Linked DNA regions of Homo sapiens: regions 1, 2 and 4 are each linked to region 3. The links come from fine-mapping of genetic effects on gene expression. A gene starts in region 3. Each other region holds a variant in brackets. All regions are shown on one strand. Distances are between the middles of the regions.

Region 1 (7,732 bases), 320 kb before region 3:
TAAAAGAACTAGAGAAGCAAGAGAAAACACATTCAAAAGCTAGCAGAAGGCGAGAAATAACTAAAATCAGAGCAGAACTGAAGGAAATAGAGACACAAAAAAACCCTTCAAAAAAATCAATGAATCCAGGAGCTGTTTTTTTTGAAAAGATCAACAAAACTGATAGACCACTAGCAAGACTAATAAAGAAGAAAAGAGAGAAGAATCAAATAGACACAATAAAAAATGATAAACGGGATATCACCACCGATCCCACAGAAATACAAACTACCATCAGAGAATACTATAAACACCTCTATGCAAATAAACTAGAAAATCTAGAAGAAATGGATAAATTGCTCGACACATACCCTCTCCCAAGACTAAACCAGGAAGAAGTTGAACCCTTGAACAGACCAATAACAGGGTCTGAAATTGAAGCAATAATTAATAGCCTACCAACTAAAAAAAGTCCAGGACCACATGGATTCACAGCCGAACTCTACCAAAAGTACAAAGAGGAGCTGGTACCATCTTTCTGAAATTATTCCAATCAATAGAAAAAGAGGGAATCCTCCCTAACTCATTTTATGAGGCCAGCATCATCCTGATACCAAAGCCTGGCAGAGACACAACAAAAAAAGAGAATTTTAGACCAATATCCCTGATCAACATCGATGCAAAAATCCTCAATAAAATACTGGCAAACCGAATCCAGCAGCACATCAAAAAGCTTATCCACCATGATCAAGTGGGCTTCATCCCTGGGAAGCAAGGCTGGTTCAATATACGCAAATCAATAAATGTAATCCAGCATATTAAACAGAGCCAAAGACAAAAACCACATGATTATCTCAATAGATGCAGAAAAGGCCTTTGACAAAATTCAACAACCCTTCGTGCTAAAAGCTCTCAATAAACTAGGTATTGATGGGACATATCTCAAAATAATAAGAGCTATCTATGACAAACCCACAGCCAATATCATAGTGAATGGACAAAAACTGGAAGCATTCCCTTTGAAAACTGGCACAAGACAAGGATGCCCTCTCTCACCACTCCTATTCAACAGAGTGTTGGAAGTTCTGGCCAGGGCAATCAGGCAGGAGAAGGAAATAAAGGGTATTCAATTAGGGAAAGAGGAAGTCAAATTGTCCTTGTTTGCAGATGACATGATTGTATATCTAGAAAACCCCACTGTCTCAGCCCAAAATCTCCTTAAGCTGATAGGCAACTTCAGCAAAGTCTCAGGATACGAAATCAATGTGCAAAAATCACAAGCATTCTTATACACCAATAACAGACAAACAGAGAGCCAAATCATGAGTGAACTCCCATTCACGTTTGCTTCAAAGAGAATAAAATACCTAGGAATACAACTACAAGGGATGTGAAAGACCTCTTCAAGGAGAACTACAAACCACTACTCAATGAAATAAAAGAGGATACAAACACATAGAACATTCCATGCTCATGGGTAGGAAGAATCAATATCATGAAAATGGCCATACTGCCCAAGGTAATTTATAGATTCAATGCCATCCCCATCAAGCTACCAATGACTTTCTTCACAGAATTGGAAAAAACTACTTTAAAGTTCATATGGAACCAAGAAAGAGCCCGCATTGCCAAGTCAATCCTAAGCCAAAAGAACAAAGCTGGAGGCATCACGCTACCTGACTTCAAACTATACTACAAGGCTACAGTAACCAAAACAGCATGGTACTGGTACCAAAACAGAGATATAGACCAATGGAACAGAACAGAGCCCTCAGAAATAATGCCACATATCTACAACCATCTGATCTTTGACAAACCTGACAAAAACAAGCAATGGGGAAAGGACTCCCTATTTAATAAATGGTGCTGGGAAAACTGGCTAGCCATATGTAGAAAGCTGAAACTGGATCCCTTCCTTACACCTTATACAAAAATTAATTCAAGACGGACTAAAGACTTAAATGTTAGATCTAAAATCATAAAAACCCTAGAAGAAAACCTAGGCATTACCATTCAGGACATAGGCATGGGCAAGGACTTCATGTCTAAAACACCAAAAGCAATGGCAACAAAAGCCATAATTGACAAATGGGATCTAATTAAACTAAAGAGCTTCTGAACAGCAAAAGAAACTACCATCAGAGTAAACAGGCAACCTACAGAATGGGAGAAAATTTTTGCAATCTACTCATCTGACAAAGGGCTAATATCCAGAATCTACAATGAACTCCAACAAATTTGCAAGAAAAAAAACAAACAACCCCATCAAAAAGTGGGCAAAGGATATGAACAGACACTTCTCAAAAGAAGACATTTATGCAGCCAAAAGACACATGAAAAAATGCTCATCATCACTGGCCATCAGAGAAATGCAAATCAAAACCACAGTGAGATACCATCTCACACCAGTTAGAATGGTGATCATTAAAAAGTCAGGAGACAACAGGTGCTGGAGAGGATGTGGAGAAATAGGAACACTTTTACACTGTTGGTGGGACTGTAAACTAGTTCAACCATTGTGGAAGTCAGTGTGGTGATTCCTCAGGGATCTAGAACTAGAAATACCATTTGACCCAGCCATCCCATTACTGGGTATATACCCAAAGGATTATAAATCATGATGCTATAAAGACACATGCACACATATGTTTATTGCGCCACTATTCACAATAGCAAAGACTTGGAACCAACCCAAATGTCCAACAATGATAGACTGGATTAAGAAAATGTGGCAAATATACACCATGGAATACTATGCAGCCATAAAAAATGATGACTTCATGTCCTTTGTAGGGACATGGATGAAGCTGGAAACCATCATTCTGAGCAAACTATTGCAAGGATAAAAAAACAAACACTGCATGTTCTCATGCATAGGTGGGAATTGAACAATGAGAACACATGGAAACAGGAAGGGGAACATCACACACCGGGGCCTGTTGTGGGGTTGGGGGAGGGTGGAGGGATAGCATTAGGAGATACACCTAATGCTAAATGATGAGTTAATGGGTGCAGCACACCAACATGGCACATGTTTACATATGTAACAAACCTGCACGTTGTGCACATATACCCTAAAACTTAAAGTATAATTTAAAAAAAAAGAAAAAGAAAAAAAAAAAAAAAGAAAACCAGCACAAAATAAGGCTTCCTTCTCTAACCACTCCTATTCAACATAGTATTGGAAGTTCTGACCAGGGCAATCACGTAAGAGAAAGAAATAAAGGGTACTCAATTAGGAAAAGAGGAAGTCAAATTGTCTCTGTTTGCAGATGACATGACTGTATATTTAGAAAACCCCATCGTCTCAGCCCAAAATCTCCTTAAGCTGATAAGCAACTTCAGCAAAGTCTAAGGATACAAAATCCATATTCAAAAATCACAAGCATTCCTATACACCAATAACAGACAAACGACAGCCAAATCATGAGTGACCTCTCACTCACGATTGCTACCAAGAGAATAAAATACCTAGGAATCCAACTTACAAGGGATGTGAAGGACCTCTTCAAGAAGAACTACAAACCACTGCTCAAGAAAATGAGAGAGGACACAAATAAATGGAACAACATTCCATGCTCATGGATAGCAGGAATCAATATCGGGAAAATGGCCATACTGCCCAAGGTAATTTACAGATTCAATGCTATGGCCATCAAGCTACCATTGACTTTCTTCACAGAATTGGAAAAAACTACTTTAAATTTCATATGGAACCAAAAAGGAGCCCACATAGCCAAGACAATCACAAGCAAAAAGAACAAAGCTGGAGGCATCACACTACCTGACTTCAAACTATACTACAAGGCTACAGTAACCAAAAGAGCATGGTACTGGTACCAAAACAGATATAGACAAATGGAACAGAACAGAGCCCTCAGAAATAACACCACACATCTAAAACCATCTGATCTTTGACAAACTTGACAAAAACAAGAAAT[G/A]GGGAAAGGATTCTCTAATTAATAAATAGTGCTAGGAAAACTACCTAGTCATATGCACAAAACTGAAACTGGACCCCTTCCTTACACTTTATACAAAAATTAACTCAAGATGGATTAACGACTTAAATGTAAAACCTAAAACCATAAAAACCCTAGAAGAAAACCTAGGCAACACCACTCAGGACATAGGCATGGGCAAAAAGTTTTGGTGAATAAAACACCAAAAGCAAGGGCAAGTAAAGCCAAAATTAACAAATGGGATCTAATTAAACTAAAGAGCTTCTGCACAGCAAAAGAACCTATCATCAGAGTGAACAGGCAACCTACAGAATGGCAGAAAATTTTTGCATTCTATCCATATGACAAAGGGCTAATATCCAGAATCTACAAAGAACTATAACAAATTTACAAGAAAAAAACAAACCACTCCATCAACAGGTGGGAGATAGGAACAGATACTTCTCAAAAGAAGACATTTATGCGGCCAAAAAACATTGAAAAAAAGCTCACCATCACTGATCACTAGAGAAATGCAAATCAAAACCACAATGAGGTACCATCTCACGCCAGTTAGAACGGTGATCATTAAAAAGGCAGGAAACAGATGTCAGAGATGATGTGGAGAAATAGGAATGCTTTTACACTGTTGGTGGGAGTATAAATTAGTTCAACCATTGTGGAAGATACTGTAGCGATTCCTCAAGGATCTAGAAGCAGAAATAGCATTTGACCCAGCAATCCCATTACTGGGTATACACACAAAGGATTATACATCTTTCTACTATAAAGGTGCATTCACACGTATGTTTATTGCGGCGCTATTCACAATAACGAAGACTTGGAACTAACCAAAATGCCCACAAATGATAGACTGGATAAAGAAAATGTGATACATATACACCATGGAATAATATGCAACCATAAAAAAGGATGAGTTAATGTCATTTGCAGGGACAGGGATGAAGCTGGACACCATCATTCTCAGCAACTAACACAAGAACAGAAAACCAAACACCTCATGTTCTTACTCATGAGTGGGAGATGAACAATGAGAACACATGGACACAGGGAGGGGAACATCACACATCAGGGCCTGTCGGTGGGTGGGGGCTAGAGGAGAGATAGCATTAGGAGAAACACCTAATGTAGATGATGGGTTGATGGATGCAGAAACCACTATGGCACATGTATACCTATGTAACAAAACTGCACGTTCTGCTCATGTGCCCCAGAACTTAAAGTATAATCTAAAAAAATTAGCCTGGTGTAGTAGCAAGCACCTGATTCTGGTGCATGCACCTGATATAGTAGCTGCAGTCCCAGCTACTAGGTCAAGGCTGCAGTGAACCCCGATTGCACCCCTGCATTCCAGCCTGGGTGATTGAGAGAGAACCTGTTTCAAAAAAAAAATGAATTGTATAAACAACTAATGTCTATAAACTTGATAACGTAGACGAAATGAACCAATTCCTAGGAAGATACAATCCAACAAAACACACCTAAGTGGAAATATGTATTCTGAATAGGACTGTATTTATTAAAGAAATTAAATAACCTTCTTCCCAAACAGAAAGCACCCATCCCAGATGAGGTCACTGTTGAGTTCCACCAAACTCACCAGTAACTATAAGAATCACACCAATTCTCCATAATGTCTTTTAGAAAATAGAAGCAGAGGTACTACTTCCTAACTCATTCTGAGGCCAGGATTCCCCTAAAACCAAAGCCAAACAAAGATATTAAAAGAAAGGAATTCTAAAATCAGTATGTCTCAGGAACATAGATGCAAAATCCTCAAAAAAAGAAAAACCCAAAAATAACAAATCAAGCGCAACGATATGTAAAAAGAATTGTATACCACAACCAAGAGGGATTTATCCCCAGTACACAAGACTGTTATAAACATTTGAAAATCAATTAATGTAATCACCACATCAACAGGCTAAAGAAAAAAATCATAAATTTTATCAGTAGATACAGAAAAAGCATTTGGCAGAACCCAACACCATTCACAGTGAAGAGTCTCAGCAAACTCGGAATAAAGGGTACTTTCTCAACTTGATAAAGAACATCAGCCGGGCGCGGTGGCTCACGCCTGTAATCCCAGCACTTTGGGAGGCTGAGGCGGGCGGATCACGAAGTCAGGAGATCGAGACCATCCTGGCTAATATGGTGAAACCCCATCTCTACTAAAAATACAAAAAATTAGCCGGGCGTGGTGGCCAGTGCCTGTAGTCCCAGCTACTCGGGAGGCTGAGGCAGGAGAATGGCGTGAACCCGGGAGGCTGAGCTTGCAGTGAGCTGAGATCGCGCCACTGCACTGCAGGCTGGGAGAGAGAGCGAGACCCCGTCTCAAAAAAAAAAAAAAAAAAAAAAAAAAAAAAATCTGCATCTGCAAAAGTCTACAACAAGCACCCTATTTAATTATGAGAAACTGGAAGGCTCCCCAGTAGGATCAGGAACAGGGCAGGAACATCCCTCTCACCACTACTGTTCATCATCACACTGAAGATCCCAGCTAACACAATAAAGCAAGGAAAGGAAAGACGAGGCACACGCATTGGGAAGAGATTAAAAATCTGTCTTTGTTTACAGATGACAATTGTCTGTAGAAAATACCAAAGAAACAACAACAACAAAAAAACACTCATGGAACCAAAAGCAATTACAGCTAGGTTGCAGGATAAAAAGTTAATATGAAAAATCAATTGCTTTCTTACATAGAAGCCATTAACAATTGGAATCTGAAATTTCAAAACATCTTTAATGCAACTGCAATAAAAATCCCAGCAAGTTACCTTGTGACTGTTGACAAACGGATTCTAAAGTTTATATGGAGAGGCAAAGACCCAGAACAGCCAACAAAATAGGGAGGGAGGAAAACAAAGTCAGAGGAGTGACACTTCCCACCTTCGAGTCTGACTCTAACACCACAGCAATCAGGATGGTGTGTGATTTGCTAAATAACAGACCAGATCAATGAAACAGAATTGAGAACCCAGAAACAGACCCACATGAATGTAGTCAACTGATCTTTGACAAAGGAACAAATGCAAGTCAGTGCTGAAAAGATCGTTTTTTAAACAAATAGTGCTAGAACAGCTGGACAGCCACAGACAAAAAAAAAGAATCTAGATTTAGACTTTAGACCTTTCACAAAGTCTTATTAACAATGGATCATGGCCTGGCTGGCACAGTGGTTCACTCCTGTAATCCCAGCACTTTGGGAGTTTGAGGTGGGAGAATCACTTGAGCCCAGGAATGTGAGACCAGCTTGGGCAACATAGAGACACCCTGACTCTACAAAAAATAAATACAATTAGCCAGGTGTGGTGGCGGCACCTATAGTCCCAGCTACTTGGGAGGCTGAAGCAGGAGGATCGCTTGAGCCCAGGAGGTCGATGCTACAGTGAGCCAAGATCACACCACTGTACTCCAGCATGGATGACAAAGCAAGACCCTGTCTCAAAAAAATAAAAAGTAAAAATATAGAAAATTTTAAAATAAAAAATAGATCATAGACCTAAATGTAAAATGCAAAGCTATAAAACTTCCAGAAGATAACATAGGAGAACATCTAGGTGACCTCTAGTTTGGTGGTGATCTTTTAGATACAACATCAAAGGCATGATCCATTAACGAAAGGATTGATAAGTTCGAATTCATTAAAATTTTAAAACCCATCTATTCATTTGAAAGACTGTGTTCAGAAAATGAATTGACAAACCACAGACTGGGAGAAAATATTTGCAAAACATTTATCTAATAAAAGACTGGCATCCAAAATATACAAACAGCTCTTAAAACTCAAC
Region 2 (7,732 bases), 110 kb after region 3:
TCACCATGTTGGCCAGGCTGTTCTTGAACTCCTGACCTCAGGTGATCCACCTGCCTTGGCCTCCCAAAGTGCTGGGATTACAGGCGTGAGCCACCGCGCCCAGCCTACTTTCTTGCTCAGGTTTTTCCAGTGTTGGCCACAGGGAGCCCTTTCTGCCGGCCTCCGGGGTCTGTTCACAGCTGCCTCTTTGGGCACAGCCTGGTTTTCTGGCACTGCAGGACACCCAGGCTCATCTGTGCGTTCCCTGCTCCAGTCCTAGACCCATTTCTCCAAGGACCCCTGGTTCCTTTTACTGGAGGGTGGGATTAGAAGCCAAGATCTGGGTGCCGCTGTGTTTATGCAAATGAATATCTCAAGATATGTGATGCCAGTCGGATCACCCCTACTCCCTCAGGGCAGAATGCGGAGAACTGAGCACCTGGAAAGACATCGAGGTCGCCCACTGCCTGTGCCTGGAAGTCCTGGGCTTGCCCCTCTTGGAGGAAGTCAGGGTTCCGCCCTTTCGTCGCTTTTTAAGAATCCGTGCATGTGGCAGTGGAGGCAGCGAATGCTCAGCACGGAGAGGGCCGTGGTTGGAGCTCTTCGCCTGAGTCGTTTCATTTGACAGCTGTGAGGATGACACAAAACAAGGAACGGGAAGACACCAGGAGGGTACAGAGTCATTTGCCGAGGTATTGATTCTGTGAAAAAATTAAATTTTCCTAGAGCCATTTGGAAATGCATTTCATACGTTGTCGGCATCCCACTTCTCTGTCCCTTAGTGCTTTGGTTTTTTCCCAAGAACAAGGAGCAGAGTGTTCCCTTGTGTTTCCACAGCACAGCTCTTAAAGTCAAGGGACCCGACCGTCACACAGCAGCGTGATCTGCAGTCCATATGCTAACCTTGCCAGTCATCCCGATAATGTCCCTGGAGGCGTTCCCCAGCTGGAGTCCAGGATGCGGTTTGGGCTCACGTGTTGGGTTTAGTTGCCACAGCTTTACTTCTCTGGAAGACCCTTCTTGGTCATTAGTGACGCGGGTAATTTTGGAGAGCCCAGGCCAGCTGTTCCACAGAGCAGTTCTCCTTCCGGGACCTGCCCAGGGGTCTCCTGACTCCATCGGGGCTGCACGTCCTGGGTGTGTGATGGCATGTGTATTCTGAGAGCTCAGTTACAGAAAGAATGAGTTTGACATTCACAGGATTATGAAATACGGGGCTTCGGGGTGGAAGTGAGGCTTTTTAAATAAATCAAATAGCTGCTAAAAATGACTATCAGTTCAACAGCTTCTGTGGCCACCTCTTGAGAATCGTTAGATAAAAATTGCTGGTGCCCAGCTGAAGAAGTTATCTTCCTGGGAGATGCTGAGCCCAAGAGAGTAAAGGTTGTGTCTGTGGGAGTGTAAATGGTGGAAATTTGACTCAGCATGAAAAAAAACAATAGTTCCTCAAACTAACAATGTTAGGAGTCATTGGCTTCCAAAATGGAGTCAAGGGCTAACAAGAGTGAGACAAACATTTTTTGCAGACTAACTCATTCCTGCTTATTACCTGGAGAATGTGCTAGTGTGTTCAGCTCATATGAGACATAGAAGGATTTTGCATTTTACAAAAGTAAGTAAAACTGCCCATAGACTAATTTTTATGCTTGATTTTAGCCAAAGGGAGAGAAGTGATCATATCCCATTTTTAAGAAATAATTTTGAAGCCAATTAATTTCTTTCAACTCTACCTTCTCAGGCCAGAATGAAATTGTGTAAGGTTAGAAAATGAGCCCAAGACCCCGTACTGGGAACCACGTTATTTTTCAAGCCTCGGAAGGACATGTTGGAGGAAGTGCTGCTTCGTGCAGAGATAGAGAGACCCAGGAACAGAGGCACCATTTATTTTGTAGGATTAAGTAGACCTCACTTTATGTTAAATGGATATGGAACAGTGAGATGTACTGCAGATAAACGAAGAGGCATTTATACCATTTATTAAAAAATTGGCTACTTTCTAAAGGATTCACACAAAGTTTCTTTACTGTACAAACATTAAGCCAAGACCTATTCCTTATACTGTATCACAGCTGCACTTTCATTTTTGGAAAAGGAGGATCATTCTGTGTGTGTTTCACTGGCTGAGAGTGAAAATATGCACCATGGACAGGTCATGTATGGACCACACCAGCCTCACTCCATGGGTGACAAATATGTGGCTGATGGCAGAGCGTGCATTTTTTTTTTCTTTTTTCTTTCTTTCTTTTTTTTTTTTTTTTTTTGGTGAGATGGTGTCTTACTCAGTTGCCCAGGCTGGAGTGCAATGGCATGATTGATCTCGGCTCACTGCAACCTGCACCTCCTGGGTTCAAGCCATTTTCCTGCCTCAGCCTCCCAGGTAGCTGGGACTGTATGTGCCCGCCACCACGCCTGGCTGATTTTCATGTTTTTAGTAGAGATGGGGTTTTGCCGTGCTGGCCAGGCTGGTCTCGAACTCCTGACCTCAAATGATCTGCTCGCCTCGGCCTCCCAAAGTGCTAGGATTACACAGGTGAGCCACCGCACCTGGCCAAGCGCGCGCTGTTTTTTTCCCACAAAACCTGTAACCCAGGAGTACAGTGGGAGTCATCACGGGAACTTTCAGGACTTAGAAGATTAGAAACCATAAGCAGATTTAGAAATTAAATTTCATAAAAGCACACTTACAGTAATGATGACATTCAACATTCAACAAAGGAATATAACTGTTTTTTTTCTTTTTTTAAGACAAGTTCTTACTCTGTCAGCCAGGCTGGAGTGCAGTGGTATAATCTCAGCTCACTGCAGCCTCTGTCCCCCGAGTTCAAGCGATTCTCCTGCCTCAGCCTCCCAAGTATCTGGGACTATAGGCATCCACCACCAGGCCTGGCTAATTTTTGTATTTTTAGTAGAGACAGCGTTTCACCATGCTGGCCAGGCTGGTCTTGAACTCCTGACCTCAAGTGATCCACCTGTCTCAGCCTCCCAGTTTTAGGCCATTCTTTACCAATCCTCTTTGTGCGTGTGTGTCTACATGATTTTTTTTAAATATTTTATGTTTAATTGACAATAACTGCAGTATATATTTGTAGGGTGAACTGTGAAGTTTTGCCATATGTTTACAATGTGGAATAACTAAATCAGGCTAATTCACACATCCATCACCTCACATACTAACCATTTTTTTTGTGGTGAAAACACTGAAATTCTGCTCTTTCAGCAATTTTGAAATACACAATGCATTATTATCTATTATACTGACCACTGTGTGAGATCAGTCTCTAAGCTTAGCCTTCCTATCCCACTGAAACTTGGTACCCTGTGGCCGTCATCTCTCATTTCTCCATCTGGTCCTTGCCCCAGCCTCTGGTAACCACCATTTAACCACCATTCTACCCTCTACTTGTATGAGTCTGACGTTTTTTAGATTCCACATATGAATGAGAAGATGTGGTATTTGTCTTTCTCAGCCTGACTTATTTCACTTAGCAGAATGTCTTCCATGCTTATCCATGATGCCGCAAAGGACAGGAGTTCCTTCTTTTTTAAGGCTCACTTTGGTATTCCATTTCTACATTTCCATTATCTTTTCATCCCTTGATAGACACTGAGGTTGATTTTCTATCTTGGGTACCGTGAACAGCGCTCCATGAACACGGGGTGCAGGTTCTCTTCCACTCACTCATTTTATTTCCTTTGGGTACATAGCCAGAGGTGGGATTGCTGGGTCGTATGGTAATCCTATCTGTAGTGTTTTGAGGAATTTCCACACTGCTCCTCAGGATGGCTGTATTAATTTACATCCCCGCTAACAGAGCACAAGGGGTTCCTCTTCTGCACACCCTCATCAACATGCGGCGTCTCTTTTCGACAACAGCATCTGAACAGTTGTGTATAAGTGACAGCGCATTATAGTTTTAATTTGCATTTCCCTGATGATTATTTATATTGAGCATTTTTTTTCAGATTGGCCATTCTGATATCTTCTTTTGAGATATGTCTCTTCAGAGCCTTTGCCCCAGTTTTTAATTGAGTTCTTTCTTTTATTGTTATTGAGGTGTTTGAGTTCCTTATGTATTTTTGGATAATATTTTCTTTTCCTTTTTTTTTTTTTTTTTTTTTTGAGATAGAGTCTCACTCTGTCACCCAGGCTGGAGTGCAGTGGCACTATCTTGTCTCACTGCAACCTCCACCTCCCAGGTTCAAGTGATTCTTCTGTCTCAGCCTCA[C/T]GAGTAGCTGGGACTACAGGCACCTGCCACCACGCTTGGCTAAATTTTGTTTTTTTAGTAGAGACGGGGTTTCACCATATTGGCCAGGCTGGTCTTTAACACCTGATCTCAGGTGATCCATCCACCTCAGCGTCTTTGTTCTGTTGTTTCCTTTGCTGTGCAGAAGCTTTTCCGTTTGTTGCAATCTCATTTGTTTGTGTTTGCTTTTGTTGCCTGTGCTTTTGGGGTCATATCCAAAAACATCTTTGCCTGGACCAGTGTCATGGAGCTTTTCCCTGTTTTCTTTTAGAGCTTCACAGTTTCAGGTCTTACGTTGAAGTCTTTAATCTATTTTGAGTTGATTTTTGCCTATGGTGTCTGATAACGGCCAATTTCACCCTCTGCCTGTGGAGATCTAGTTTCCCCAACACCGTTGATTGAGGACACTGTCCTTTCTCCATTGTGTGTTCTCAGCAATTTTGTCAAAAACCGTCAACCATATGTGTGCGGGTGTGTTTCTGGGCTCCGTCTCCTGTTTCACTGTTTATCGTTTCTCTTCATGGAAGTTTTTATGTGGAGTGCGGGTCTCTCCTCCTGTCCCACTTATATGTGGTCTTATAGATGTTGAGGGATATATCCGCTCTGTCTTTAGGCCTCCTCTGCACATTCACTTTTTAAAATGAGGCTGTTGGAAAGTTGGGCTTGTTCCTCATTGCTTTCAAAATTGTTTTGTCCCTCTAGGAGTAGAAAGTTGACTTTTGCACACATTGCTGGCAATAATTAACACAACTGGTCAAAGTATGTATCTCCATCACACATGTCTAGATAAAACTATAGATGACATTTGTGATTCCCATATAAAGTAAATCACCAACACCCAGGTTTACCTTTGTCTATCGGGCACACGCGCACCACAGCACACAGGAGGTGACTCAGTGTGGAGCCCTTGGCTGGCAGTCTGCGATCTGTCGAGTCAAGTCCAGCCGATTTCCCTGGTGCTGAGATGCCCCTGCTGGCCGCTCCAGCTTTCAAGCACAGTGTGGCCTGGGGCAGGTGGGCTGGATGTTGGCCAGTCACACGGGCCTCTGAGCTTTCTTCTGAGACTCTCGGGCTGAAAGCATGGGCCACCTGGGGTGGGTTTTTTTTTTGGTTGTTGTTGTTTTGTTTTTTGTTTTTTCTTTTTTTGACAGAGTCTCACTCTGTTGCCTAGGCTGGAGTGCATGATCTCGGCTCACTGCAACCTCTGCCTCCTGGGTTCAAGCGATTCTTCTGCCTCAGCTTCCCAAGTAGCTGGGATTACAGGGCCCGCCCCCTCCCCCCCACATCTGGCTAGTTTTTTGTATTTTTAGTAGAGACGGGGTTTCACCATGTTGGCCAGGCTGGTCTTGAACTCCTGACCTCAGGTGATCCACCTGCCTACAGCTCCCAAAGTGCTGGGATTATAGGCGTGAGGGTGTTTTTTAAAACACACTTGCTTCCCTTAGATCACCTTTGATGCCTACCTTGTTAGAAAAGGAACTCTGTTTAAAAGCCTTCCCGAGGCTGGTTCGCAGTGGCTTGGAGTTTTGAGCTCAACTGAGGGTGGCGGTTTATGGGAGAGCTCTCAGTGGCTTCTCTGTGTCTTCAAAGGATTCGGCCAGATCCTTTCCTGTGGACGCTGCCTCTCACCCGGTTTTTGTCTGCCCCACTTGGGAGTCATGCTATAAGGCAGTCGTGCCCTGAAATGCTCTCATTCTCAGCCTTTAAAACATTCTTATGACTAAATTCAGTGAACCTGGAGAAAAGTCCTCCAACCTGCTTCACTCTGCTCCAGGCCCTGTGAAGCCTCTAGATGTCACTGGGAGAACAGACATGGAGCGCCTCCCCTGCCGCCAAGCCAGATCCATCTTTTTGATGCAAACACATCACTTAGTGACTGGAAGATTATTAAAGGCATTATACTTACCCCAGTGACAAGGACAGGTCCAGCAAATTACAGTTTCCAGGAAATAGCAGGTCATTTTGAAGGCAATGATATAGCTTCTTAATCTGCACATGATACACATTAGGAGGGATAAAACGTATCTTTTGAGATATTACAAGGCTCTTATTACATCAGTGAAGTCATAAAAATGTGTGATCTATCTATACATTAAGTTTGGGTATGAATTTTAAATATTCCATGTTTCAAAGAGGCATGTCAAAGGGAGCGGGCTCACTCATTTTTCAAAGCAGTAAATTACAGCATTGAAATATTTCACATGAAGCATGTGATACTGCAAAGCTATCACAGGGTGAGGCAGGGCCTGAGAAAGGAGTTTCTGGGTCTTCAGGGAGCTGTGTTCACCCTGGTGTCCTGATCTGCCCTTGAGCTTTTTCTCCATGGTGGTTCAGCCTCGCAATTTTCATAAAGACTTCCTCATGTTTGGGAAAAAGCAGTGGTTGGGAGCCATTAGAAACTTCTCTTATGCTTTGTTTTGTAGAGGCTAAACATGGTCAACACTTGTGATTTTTATTTTTTTAATTGCCTTTTTGAGCTGCAGTTAAACAATGAATGGAAGGAAAGATTGCATATAATAGTCCCATTTTTCACTGGCTTAAAAATAGATGAATATCTTATTTAGACATCATTTTACCTGTAGGATGATGACCATATTTTTTAAAGGGGGGCATATTTAAAAGGTATATTGAAGGGGAATAATAAAAGGGAATATTAAAAAGGTACATTAAAATGAAAATTAAAATAAAAGATCCCAAACTGATTGAACTTTATGACACCAAAAGAAACACCCAGCCCCTCACTGCCTCTGCACTGCTTTAATTCTTTGCTTCCACTCTGGTTCATCATTCACATTCCTTCATATCTGCTTTTATGTTACTAAGATGTGAGTCTGCTTCTCAGTAACACAAACATAATTTCTTTTAATATATTGCTGTCAAAAAGCAATGAACCCGGAGTGTACCAGGAAGAACACAGAATCCAGCTTTGGTCCTGGCTCTGTTGGAGGCTTGGCTCTGCACCTGATAGGGTTCAGCTTTGTGTCCCCACCCAAATCTCATCTTGAACTGTCATCCCCAGAATCCCCACAGTCCCCACATGTCAAGACAGGGACCAGGTGGAGGTGATTGAATCATGGGGTTGGTTTCCCCCATGCTGTTCTCCTGATAGTGAGTTCTCATGAGATCTGATGATTTTACAAGGGGCTCTTCCCCCTTCACTCAGCACTTCTTCCTGCTGCCTGGTGAAGAAGGCACCTTGCTTCCCCTTTCCCTTCCGCCATGATTGTAAGTGTCCTGAGGCTTCCCCAACCATGATGAACTGTGAGGCAATTAAACCTTTTTCCTTTATAAATTACCCAGTCTCAGGCAGTCCTCATAGCAGTATGAAAACAGACAAATACCACACCCTTGGACAAACTGCTTTTCTTTTTCTGTGCCTCAGTTTTCTTCTCTGTAAAAGTTGGGTCAGCAGTTCTCAAATCGAGCTGCATTCATGTGCCCAAGGGGACTCTGCTTTCCCCCGCTGTAGCCCCCAACCCCCGATCACAGCTCTTGGTCACACTCCCCAC
Region 3 (7,732 bases):
ATTTTCTTGAGGTTTAAATTCTAAATACAGAACTGCACAACCATAAATAGGAACAAAGACATTCTAAAGGCAGAAAAAAGGAACAAGGTTGGGTATGGTGGCTCACGCTTGTAATCCCAGCACTTTGGGAGACCGAGATGGGTGGGTCACTTGAGGACAGGAGTTCGAGACCAGCCTGTTCACCAATATGGTGAAACCTTGTCTCTACTAAAAATACCAAAAATATATATATATATATATATATATATATATATATATATATATATATATATATATATCCGGGCCTGGTGGCACACACTTGTAATACCAGCTACTTGGGAGGCTGAGGTGGGAGGCTCACTTGAACCCAAGAGTCGGAGGTTACCACTGCACTCCAGCCTGGGCGACAGAGCCAGACGCCATCTCAATCAATCAGTCATCAGTCAATAAAAATAAAGAAAAAAACTCTTTTCTTTAAAGTGGGGCTGTTTTCTGAGATTCAGGTTTTCAGGATTTGGGAATGAGAGGCAGTGCTGATGGGGGCTGATGCCCTCAAGGGAGTTTTCTGCCTCCAGATTTTCCAGTCTCCCTTCTGCGGCCTGTGCACACGTGCTCTGTGGGGACCAGACGCCTTTGTTGTTGGCCTCATCACCCCCTGGTTTGGGAGAGCACGGAGGGTGACCCCCTGCCCCTCCCTGTGCTGTGGCTGCAACTGCGAAGCCTCTTTCTGGTGAGCTGTCATCCTTTGAATCATAAAACTGAATATTTGGCCTGTTGGATGGATAATTTCTAAAATACATGGGATGGATAATTTCTAAAATACATGGATAATTTCTAAAATAATTTCTAAAAAACAGAAAATTTGTTTTCTGAGACGGAATGCATGGAAGTGAACAAAATATCTTAAGAATAATTTTATTTCTTTCAAATATCCAAACTGATTTTCCTGAATCGAATGTCAGTTTTGGCTCTGTGCAATATAACAGGGGTCCTGAACCCCAGCCTCGGGGTCCGTGGCCGGTGAGGAGCTGGGCCGCATGGCGCGGTGAATGGCGGCCACTGAGTATTCTCGCCGGAGCTCCAGCTCCTCTCAGAGCCGCGGCCTTAGATTCTCACAGGAATACAAACCCTACTGTGACCTGCACACGCGAGGGATCTAGGCTGGACGCTCCTTATGAGAATCTTATGCCTGATGATCCGAGGTGGAGCAGTTTCATCCCAAAACTATCCCCCTCTCCACCGTTCTTGGAAAAATTGTCTTCCACGAAACCGGTCCTTGTTGCCAAAACAGTTGGGGATTGTTGCTGTATAGAACATAACTTCACCCATGAATGGTCTGGCCTGGGGTTCCACAGGATTGAAGGCACGTGGTTTTAGAATGTCACTCTTTGCATTTCGATCTTCTTTTCTATGTTGTGGGAAATCCTCAGTGAGGCCAACTGTTTTCCATTCACAGGCTGCCAATTTGAGCTGTGGAAATGAGATTGCTGGACTCTTCCTTTGTCTTAGTCAGGATTCTCTTGATGGCCGATGATAGAAAGTCAGCCCAAGGAACTCCGGCAAGAAGGAGCCTGTCTGCCCCAGAGCTGGTGTGTCTGGTGGAGAATGCGGGGCCCATGCCTGGTCCCACCGCCTCCCTCCGTCTTTTGTCCCTTCTTGGCTCCAGGCTTCCTGCAGGTGCACCTCACCCAGGGAGTTTTGGAAGCTACATCCCGGGTGGGCAGGGGCAGGCATGGCTCAGGGAGATGGGGGTCTACGAGGAGGGTGGGGAGGGGTCTCCTGTCCCCAGCAGAAGGCGAAGCTCTGTCCCCATCAGGAGCCTATCTGTGTCCCGGGTCACACTCTGCTCTCTGGGTGGTGTGGCTGAAAGATCCAGGCTTTCTTAGACGCAGCACTGGATTTCTATATCACAGAAGGAGGGCACAGCCACCGTGAAATGTCAGAAAAGGAGGAGGAGTGTGCTGGCCCTTCCTTCTCTCAGGAGAGGCCCCTCCCCGGGATGAGATTGTCCCCTCCTGAGATGCTAGGACTGGGACCCAGGCGACTGAGATGCCAGGACTGGGACTCAGAGGACTGAGATGCCACCTGAGGGGACGAGGCACCATCACTGCCCCTCCAGTGTCGGCCACACTCAGAGGCAGGGGGGCAGAAGGGCTGAAGGGAAGTCCCCCAGGTCCCTGAGAAATGGATTCGCTAGAGAAGGAGATGCTGATAAACCGGAAGTAAACATTGCTTGCTCTGGTCTTGCTGTTTGCAACCCCCCCAAAATATGTGGGTTAAAACCCTAACCCCCAAAACGATGGTGTGAGGAGGTGGGGCCTTAGGGAAGTGACAAGGTCATGGAGGTGGAACCTCCCGAGTGGGATCAGTATCCTCATACAGAGGCCCCAAGAGCGGCCTGGCCCCTTGACTTGGTGAGGACTCAGGGACCGCGCCGTCCCAGAACCAGAAGGCTCTCCCCAGGCAGTGTCTGCTGGTACCTGGATCTTGGACTTCCAGTCCCCAGAACTGTGGGAAAGAAGCTCCTGTGTTTTATAAGCTACACGGTCTATGGTGTTTTGCTAAAGCAGCCTGAATAGACTAAGAAATCACTCAACAAACACTAATTAAATTAAATGCTAGGCCATCAGAATACGAAGGGGAAGAAGACAGAAACACTCGCCTCCTGATCCAGCATCCAGAACGCTCTGGGGCCCAGCAAGAGGCTGTGCTCGCGTCTTTCTCGTATCTGATCTTCGCCTCCATCCACCTGCTCGCTGGTCCTTGGCTGTGCCTCTGATACCCCAGTGTGAGAACGTGGAGTTTCTTAAGGCAATTCTCTTATCATATTTTCTCTACTTGTCACAACAAACTTACAGGAAAGTTGTTATTCCATGCGTTTTAGAGCTGGGGAGCATAGCCCCCGTGGGCTGAGCAGCTGGCCGAAGTCCTCAGCCCCTGTGGTGAGGTGCAGCTGGAGTGTGATTCTCCGGGTCCTCAGATGGGGGCATCCCCTTGAGGCCCCGCCTCTTGGCCAGGCTGCAGCCCAGGACCGTGCCAGGTGTGTGTTATCTATATTTGGACACACGCTGTGCGAAACGACGGGCACCCTGCAATTATCCGTGTGGTGTAGACGCAGTGTACGTCTGTGGTAATGGCTATAAATAAGCCCCGACTTGCCGACTAGGCACCGCTCCTCTTTTGGGTAGGCAGTTCTTGCTAAAATAGCCCTAAGATACAATCGAGTGAAGACCTGAGTCGTTCTTGAAATAAAAAAAAAAAAACGAACAAACACACGAACATGCACACACACGCTCACAAACCCAGGGGCTTGTGCACCTCCCTCCCTCCACAGCCGACCTCAACTCGGGTGTCCAGGCCTGCGAATGGCACAAATGCTCACTGAAATCCATGTCATTATTAAAGACTCATTCAGGAGTTGCAATTTGTGAGCCAGGGAACCTGTAGCTCGAAAGGATTGAAGATATGTCTGAGAATTCACACGTAAGGATTAGAACTCATGGAGGAGAGTTGCGGGGAGGGAGCGTGGGAAGTCAGTGCCCTGCCCTCTCTTTCTGGGTCGGGGGCTGAAGTGTCACACCCGGTTTCCTGGGAAAAGTGCAGTTTGGGACTCAGAAAGGACACGTTCCAGTTTTGAATCGTGATTTCCCCCGCCCTCAGTTTGAACAAGAAGCTTTTCCTCCTGAGGTCAGGCTGGTGATTTACGATGTGGGTATTGATGTGGGGAGAGGCAGGCCCAGGCGTCTATATATAGTAGCTCCTCAGACCTTAAACGGGAGGGAGGCACAGGCGCTTGCTTTGCAGGAGTCAGCTCTGCCTTCCTCGGCTGGAGTGTGGGTGGCTTGGTGAGCCGGTGGTCAGGAATTCTCTCTCCTCCTTGCAATTTTCCTTTCTGTCTGGGTAAGTGTCTTTCTCTTCTTGCCTTTTCTAATTTGTGGCTTTAAGGGGAGGACCGGTAACTTCTGCACTCACATTTTCTAAGTACCTCTACTTCAGGGTCAAGAAGAGAGAGCCAGTGCACCCCGTCGCAGGCACCCTTTACTGTGGAAAACAGAGCAATTAGTTCTGGGATCTGTATTTCTTTGACGAGGTTTTATGCTCAACTAACATTTTATTTCCCACAGCCGTGGTCTTTGCTAAGTGCCGTTTAGCACCCTGCGGCGTGTGCTTTGGGTTTTAGCCCTGGTCTCATCGTGGCCCCAGGGGGCCCCCCAGTCAGTGGACTGATGTCTGCAAGTTTCATGAGATTCTCAGAAACGAAAGCCTCCCCCGAGGAGAGGGCTGACTTATAAAGGTGTGAAATAATAAAACTGGATATTTTCTTAAGGGAAAAAAGAGTCGAGGGTCATTCAGCTTAGACCTAGCCTATATTATCCACGGTATGGGAAAGAGAACAATCCTTGTCAGGACTTGCAAGTTTTTGCCCAAAAATGACAGCGTTCTTACGGCTGTTTTCTTCTTTGTGCTGTTGGGTGTGTTGTGACCCTTCAGACTTCTTCAGCTCCACTCCGCTGATAGAGGCTGTGCCTTCTCAGGGCGTGCTCTTGAAATGCAACCTGCTGGAGAAAGACAGTGGGGCTGGGTGGTTGCACGTGGAAGGCACCGGAGGCAAACGGAAGGAAGGGGTTTGCCATCACTGGGAACACCTGGCCTTTTCTAATTCTCCATTTCACATTCCTTTCTTACTAAGTAGAAGTAAAACAGGACTCAAAGAAAGCGTGGAACAAAGATAATTTAAGGCGTTATTTAATAAACCAAGTCCCAAGCTAAAACTTGTCTTGGGAGCCAAGGGCTTAGCCACTTGTGGCACAGGCCAACGCTGCGTGTCTGGGAGTCCCTTTCCCCTCTAGAAAGCTTTAATTTGGTGTATTTATTGACTTTGACATTTTTAACTGTACAAACAATTTCCTTCATTAAGTGGAAGTCAATGTTTTGTACTTCAAACATTTTTGCAAATTAAAACCCATCCTGGTGACATGAGGAATGGGCTCCACACGTTGTTTGCAGGAAGGAATTAGGATGGGGATATCAGACACGTGGTCCCCTGCACTGGAGGAGAGGCTCGCGTTTCATCCTGGTGTCATGATTCCTAAACGTGTCAGGAGCATTCCGGGAGTGGCCGGGGAGCTGGGCTGTGGTGGAAAGTGGGCTGGACGCTGTCAGGAGAGTCAGCTGGCGCCTGGGTTCGGCCGTGGCCCTACCGGTGACCCGGGCAAGTCATATTTCCCTGGGGACGGTCTGTGCTAACAGTACAGCGTGGCGCCAGGATTATCTACACACAGGCTGTCCAAGCTGGGGGACTGTTAGCTGCCACCTCACTCAGCCCCCTGTTTTACAGCAGAGCAGGTGGAGGCCCCTGAGCTGAAGGTCAGCAGGTCCCCACTGGAGTCTCAGCCTCCCAATGCGCCTGAGCCCCAGGGACTCACATCAAAAACTACCCTGCGAGGAAAAGCTGCTTTCTTTCTCTCTCTCTTTCTTTTTTCTTTTTTTTTTTTTTGGTTGGTGTGTGTAGGGGGTATTTAACACATGTCTGAGATAGTTCCTTAAAAAGGAAAACAGCTTTCTATGTAGACAGTAGAGGGACATTGGGGAGCTGATCGGCCCAGGTCCTGTCATTTTCTTTATAGTGTCATAAATAGTACAGGTTGATCATTCCAAATCTGAAGATCAGAAATCCAGAATGCTCTAAATTCTGAAACTTTGTGAGCGCTGGTATGACTCTCAAAGGAAATGCTTACATGAGCATCTCAAGTATCCAATTTCTGGATTTGAGTTGCTCAACCAGTAAGTATAAATGCAAGTATTCCACAGTCTGAAAAACAAATCGGGAATTGGAAACTCTTCTGGTCCAAGCATTTTGGATAAGGGATGCTCCACCTGTAGGGTGCATTTGGCAAGTCCTCTCCAGGGTTCCCTCCACTCAGAAGGGCCCTGTGCTGCCAGGGCTGCAGGCACCCAGCACGTGCTGAGTCAGTGGGGATTTGCTTGCAAAGACGTCATCACACCCGGCCAGGAGGTGGTGGCCCAGGCTGGGTGAGGGACACTGGGGAAGTTCTAACATAGGAAGTCCCCCAAGGAGTGAAGAGATTGCGGAGGGGACACACATTCAGGGTGGGTGAGGCTGGACGTGCAGTCCTGCTGGTTTTCTGGGTTGGGCATGTGATTGATAAAAGTGGAGTTGAGGGCACATTGGCACTGGGAGTCAAATGCGCAGAAGACTTGAGCTTGCTACTCTCCCGAGCCAGGAGCTCTAAGGTGTTTTCATTGTTGAAATCCAAGGGTTCTGATTTAGGCTTGGCTGGCACGTTGCAAGTGACCCCATACTTGTGGAATCAACTGAGGCTGATGGATTCTGCAAAGCCTCTGACACCTCCTGATTTTGGTGGTCCTGAGCATGAAGTGAGCAGGGAATACATGTGGGGATAAACGTGGCAAAGTGCCCTGTTACCCCCATCCAAAGACTTCCCGGGGAGACTTCCACAGTAAGGTACCATTGGAGTGAGGATTGCAGGAAGTGTGCACACGTGATCCCAGCTCTGCCTTGCTAAGCACTACAAAGTGTAGCCCCTCACACATGAAGTGTTTGAAGACTTCCAGGCCCACAGGACCGGATGTCACGTCAGTGATACATAGGTTGCATTGGACAGGACGTTACAGACTGGTTGAAGGATAGCTAGTCTGTGAGCTCTCAAGACCTGAGCCGTTTCACATTCTTCCAGGTCTTAGGTCTAAGGAGGAGGATTTCCATCCAGGGCGATTCTCCTCTTATTTCAATGTAGCTCATTCTCTCCTTTGACCTAATAGGTCACATTTTGACTCTTCCCTTTACCAAGAAATACAAACACATCTGAGGTTTAACTCAACATAAGTGTAAGTAGATACTGTGATGACACATGAGCCCCTGCTGCAATAGCAGGTACTGGGGATTGCTCATGCGTCTGCTGGAGTGGAATTGCCTGGTATTCGTCAGGCTGATCCCAGAAGAACCTTGGATAGGAAACCGGATGGAAGCTGAAACGTCTTCCCCAACCTTGGTCCAACTTCATTTCAGTGAGCTCTTCCCAGCACCCTGCTGGTGAACTCCAGAGAGAGTAAATGGGTTTCTGAGCAGGAAGCGTTTCTTGAAGATCCACCTTGATTAACTCATTGGAAAATCCCAGTGAGCTGCATCTGGGGAGATTTCAAATAGTGAAGCAATACATAGATTTTCTCAGATACCTTTTCCTGTCTGCAGAATTCTTGAACCATGATAACAGCAGCAGCATAACAGAGACAGCAACCGATTTCGGTACCAGGGCCAGGGCCAGGCATGATGCAGATTCAATATGGAACGCCAGAGCTAGAGGAGCTAGAAGCTACCCCAGGCCTCATCAGAATGCTGGAGTCAGAATTCGATCCCAGGTCTACCAGACATCAAAACCTGGGCGCTTGACCTCTGCACTATGATACTGCCTTCAATATCAGGGCGGGTGGAGGAGATATGCTTTTATTTATTTATTTATTTATTTTATTTTTTATTTTTATTTTATTTTTTTTTTTGAGATGGAGTCTCGCTCTGTCACCCAGGCTGGAATGCAGTGGCGCGATCTCGGCTCACTGCAAGCTCCGCCTCCCAGGTTCACGCCATTCTCCTGCCTCAGCCTCCCGAGTAGCTGGGACTACAGGGGACCCCCACCATTCTGGCTAATTTTTTGTATTTTTTTTAGTAGAGACGGGGTTTCACCATCTTAGCCAGGGTAGTCTCAATCTCCTG
Region 4 (5,000 bases), 80 kb after region 3:
TGTTAGTGAAACAGACGAAACCCCTGCTTCACAGAGATTCAGTCCCAGTGCTGTCGAGAACGATGCCATTTCCCATAGCGGATGTGGAAATTCTAAGCTGTGTTGCACTGTTACTCTAGCAGAGCTGATGACACTGTTGAATCATTTTCATTCTTTTGTCATCAACATCACTCTTCTTGAATTCACATGGGATGTGAACATCGAATTGTGAGACTTGTATAATCTCATGGGATTCAAACATTCTGCCATGCTGAATCAGAATTCTTCCTCGTCCCTCAGACCAATGCCGGAGCATGTGAATTGGAATGCTCATTTATCTTCGGAGTTCCGCAAAGCTTAGTTTCTAGCCAGCGATTGAATTGTGAGGAATTTCAGTATAGGGAAGGTCCTCACCTCTAGTGAGCATTTTTGTGTTAAGATTTCATTTTCTTTGTGTCCCTGTACCTGAAATGGGATGCTGTTAAAAGAGCAGCTGCCAACCAGCTTTACAGACCCCTCAGAATATTCTCTATTATTCAGAAATCCCCATATATATTGCTTAAGACTTGTCTTTGTTAATGACATTTCATATAGACCAAAAGATCTTTATGCCTAGTCTAATTTCATGGACTAGAATGACGAGAATCATTTGTCCTTCTGTGAGCAACTGTGAGGACTTAATTTTCTTAGAAGCTGGAATTTAGAAATGTGTTTGACGTTATTGGGAGCGACAGCTTTTCCATAAGCCTTCGTCTGAGACTGTCTATAGTAAAAACTAAGGTTTTTTGAGGGGGGGGCTCTGTGATTTAAGATTCTAATAGACTTTCTTTTTCTCATGAGTCAGAATGATTTACACACTAAACTTAAGCTTTCTACCTCACAGGTTGCAAACACCAAGAAAGAAACCGTTTTCAAATGGCTCAAGGATGATGTTCTGTATGAAACGGAGACACTGCCTAACCTGGAGAGGGGAATCTGTGAGCTCCTCATCCCAAAGGTATCAGGCATTGAGTAACACAAGAAAGCAAAACAAAAACGGCACTTTCAAATAACTCGTAAATTCTACAATCCTCTAATTTGCATCCTGAATTTCGGTGGTTTGCAAAGAAAATGTATTAGAGTTTATTACGTTTTCTAAGATTGCAGTATTGACTTTACATAAATATGGAATGTGTTTTCTTTGTAGTTGTCAAAGAAGGACCACGGTGAATACAAGGCAACCTTGAAAGATGACAGAGGCCAAGATGTGTCCATCCTTGAAATAGCTGGCAAAGGTAAAAGAAAACCTCCTTTGTTCTGTGAACAAGAAATTCCTTTCACCAACAGGATGGGATGTATTCTGAAGGCAGGTCTATGTCTAGCCTCAGCTATAGCACACATTGTGTCTTTAGCAGTAACACTGTAGAAAAAAACTATTTGTTCTTTGGTTGCTTTCAGAGTTTTTTCAGTGTTTTAGAATAATGTATGATATTACTCTGGGTTTATATGAAACGTCATTTCGGTCCATCATCAGAAGCCAAGCAACGCATTACTAATGCAGTTAAAATGATGGAAACACTGAGGCAGTGATTCAGTTGAATGTAGAGTTGGATTTATGTTGAGTAAAACGTTCTTGATCCTTTTTTAAAAGTGAATAGGTTAGAAGGATTTATCGCACACATAAGTCTTTTATGGATAAATATTGCCATTTTAATGATTCATTTTTCAACTGAACATCACAATTTCCTGCATCGATTTAATTAAACATTGAAAATGCTGCTTTCGGTTAAAGTTACATGTCGTAATGGTGCGTATCCCTTCTCATTTTCAGTGTATGATGATATGATTTTGGCAATGAGTAGAGTCTGTGGTAAGTAAATGCCTTTTAATTTTCAAGTCATTTGGGGTGCTGAAATCACTATTTCCTGACACGGGAAGTCACTGCTGCAAAAGAGGGCACCATGGAGCTGTGGTGCGTGTTCTGTGGGAGGCCCTGGATGGAAGGGCAGGGTGGTGATCTGCTGCCGATGAAGCTTTTTAAAGGACTTCCCTCAGTTTTGTCTGGAGTTTGAGTTTTACTTTAAGAAACTCAGGTTGGGCGTCCTGATTAGCCACTTCTTCCATCCTGTCTTAGGTTAATTGGCATGACTGCTTTGTATATAATTGCTATGAGCAGCTTTTTACATATGTTGAATAGCCGTAATGAATTTTTAAACCTCTCACTTTGCGTCGTACACATTAAACCATATGTTATCTTTACAAATAAATGCCCAGAGGTGGGATTGCTGGATCACATGTCAGTTCAGCTTGTTTTTGGAGGAAACTCCACACTCTTTTCTATAGTGGCTATATTAATTTACATGCCACCAATCATGCACAAGTGTTCCTTTCTCTGCTTGCCAGTGTTTTATCTTTTGTCTTTTTGATAATAGCCATTCTAACAGGTGTGAGATGATATCTCACTGCAGTTTTAATTTGCATTTCCCTGATGATTAGAGATGTTCAGTATTTTTCAAGTATCTGTTGGCCATTTTTCTGTCTTCTTTTGAGAAATATCTGTTCAGATCCTTTGCCCATTTTTAATGGGTTATTTGTTTTTTTCCTGTGGAGTTCAGTTCCTTATGGATTTTGAATATTAGTCCCTTAGCCAATGCATAGCTTGAATATAGTTTCTCCCAATCCATGGGTTCTTTCTTCCTTTTGTCAATTGTTTTCTTTACTGTGCAGAAGCTTTTTAGTTTTGTGCAGTACCATTTATTTACTTTTGCTTTTGTTGCCTGTATTTTTGATGTCCTATCCAAGCGATCACTGCCCAGATCCATGCTGCAAAGCATCTCCCCCACGAGCTTCCTTCCAGCGGCTTCGCAGTTTCAGGTCTTATGTTTAAGTCTTTTATCCAATTTGAGTTGATTTTTCCATGTGGCATAAGTTAAAGCGCCAATTTCACTCTTCTGCATGTGGATATTCAGTGTTTCCAGCACCACTGATTAAAGAGACTGTCTTTCCCTATTGTGTCTTCTTGGCATCTTTGTTGAAAATCAATTGACCATCAATATTTAGTTTCATTTCTGGGCTCTTTATCCTGTTCCA[T/C]TGGCCGATCTGTCTGTTCTAATGTCAGTGCCATGCTGTTTTGGTTTCTGTAACTATATATTTTGAAATCAGGAGTGCGATGCCTCCAGCTTTGTTCTTTTTCCTAAGGATTGTTTAGGCTATTAGAGGCTTTCCTAGTTGCATACGACTTTTAGGATTATTTTTCCTTTTTTTTTTTTTTTTTTTTTTGAGACGGAGTCTTTCCCTGTTGCCAGGCTGTAGTGCAGTGGGTGAATCTCGGCTCACTGCAACCTCCATCTCCTGGGTTCAAGCGATTTTCCTACCTCAGTCTCCAGAGTAGCTGGGACTACAGGCACGCATCACCACACCCAGCTAATTTTTTTGCATTTTTAGTAGAGATGGGGTTTCACCATGCTGGCCAGGATGGTCTCCATTTCCTGACATTGTGATCCGCCCGCCCGCCCACCGAGGCCTCCCTAAGTGCTGGGATTACATGCTTGAGCCACTGTGCCTGGACAAGGATTATTTTTCTATTTCTGTGAAAAACAACATCGAAATTTTGATAAGAATTGCATTCAATCTTTAGATTGCTTTGGGTAGTAAAAATGTGGCTTTACTCTTATACTCATGAAATTATTTTGTGTTAAAATATCTCATAATGTGTCCAAGGGCCACTCATGGATAATAGAACTGACCAGAAGGTCTTGAAGAGTGAGTGTTTATAAGGAAAATGCAAAAAGCAGAGTCCTCACTGTGTGCTTGTCACCTCGAAGCAGAGATGCAGCGGCTGAGGGGACATGCACATTATGTTGGGAGTTGGATAGGGACAGAGGGGACAGGCCCAGAACTTCCCATATCAATAGGGAGCCTTTATTCTCATGGGAAACTGGACGCCATGGGCTGGAGTCTCTCCCTGACATATCAGAATGGAAGAAGTGGAAGGCATGTTGTCAACACACTCACACCCACACACTCACATCCCCACACTCACACAGCAGTCACACACACACGATTTCCCACTCAGACATACACACACACTGACACACACCAGTGTACCCACACCCTACACACTCACACACTCATACATGCACACACTTACATGTGAACTCACACACTGACACACACACTCATACACACACTTACTCATATGGGCACACACTTGTGTAGACTCACACACTGATGCATACAGACTCATACACAGGAGCCCTGGGAGGCTGGGGGAGCATTGGGGGAGGCTGATACAGGCTGGGGAAGCACCGGGAGAGGCTGATGGAGGCTGGGGGAGCACTGAGGGAGGCTGATGGAGGCTGGGTGAGCACTGGGGGAGGCTGATAGAGGCTGGAGGACCACTGGGGGAGGATGGGGGAGTACTAGGAGAGGCTGATGGAGGCTGGGGGAGCACTGGGGGAGGCTGATAAAGTCTGGGGGAGCACTGGGAGAGGTTGATAGAGGCTGGAGGAGCACTGGGGGATGCTGAGGGAGCATTGAGAGAGGCTGATGGAGGCTGGGGGAGCACTGGGGGAGGCAGATAGAGGCTGGAGGAGCACTGGGGGAGGATGGGGAAGCACTGAGAGAGGCTGACGGAGGCTGGGGGAGCACTGGGAGAGGCTGATAGAGGCTGGGGGAGCTGCTTCTGGTCTGTGTGCTTTGCTCTCAGGCTGCTCCGACCCTCCCGTGTTCTGCCTGGTTAGGGTGGTGTTGGTCTCATGAGTCAGTGTCAGGGAATTTGAGCAGAGGGAAGGGGGGTCGGGTGGGGGAATATGGCTCTGCAGTGTGTTGACTTCACCCAGTTCCCAAGCTCTTTTTCAAGTTGTGATTCCTTGAAGGGTGAACTCCTGTCTCCGAGTAGAGGAAACAGAGTCCCACCTGACTGGGGAGGGGAGATGGTGGTCAGGGATCTCTGCCTTACAGATTTTCAATAACCCTCCTGTCTGCAGCCGGCCCAGATGCAGGGACCCTCCAAGTCCTGAGCTCACTCGGTTCCCTGCGCA

What was found. PIP is the estimated chance that this variant, and not a neighbour inherited with it, causes the effect. A credible set is the group of variants that fine-mapping cannot tell apart.
Region 1: its variant is the best candidate, but not a certain one, in a credible set for the expression of MYOM2 in ovary (GTEx, PIP 0.90).
Region 2: its variant is the best candidate, but not a certain one, in a credible set for the expression of MYOM2 in tibial nerve (GTEx, PIP 0.72).
Region 4: its variant is the best candidate, but not a certain one, in a credible set for the expression of MYOM2 in thyroid (GTEx, PIP 0.52).

The regions. Positions count from the first base shown.
Region 1 is chr8:1,717,914-1,725,645 of GRCh38, forward strand. No RefSeq gene overlaps it. Among named protein-coding and RNA genes, the nearest start is that of CLN8, 42 kb to the right of the region's middle. The variant G/A (reference allele first, on the strand shown) is at 3,921.
Region 2 is chr8:2,147,857-2,155,588 of GRCh38, forward strand. No RefSeq gene overlaps it. Among named protein-coding and RNA genes, the nearest start is that of MIR7160, 75 kb to the left of the region's middle. The variant C/T (reference allele first, on the strand shown) is at 4,206.
Region 3 is chr8:2,041,290-2,049,021 of GRCh38, forward strand. MYOM2 (myomesin 2) reads left to right here and starts at 3,757. Exons shown (of 37, transcript NM_003970.4): 1 at 3,757-3,879.
Region 4 is chr8:2,122,390-2,127,389 of GRCh38, forward strand. MYOM2 (myomesin 2) reads left to right here. Exons shown (of 37, transcript NM_003970.4): 29 at 863-976; 30 at 1,166-1,253; 31 at 1,790-1,828. Among named protein-coding and RNA genes, the nearest start is that of MIR7160, 48 kb to the left of the region's middle. The variant T/C (reference allele first, on the strand shown) is at 3,049.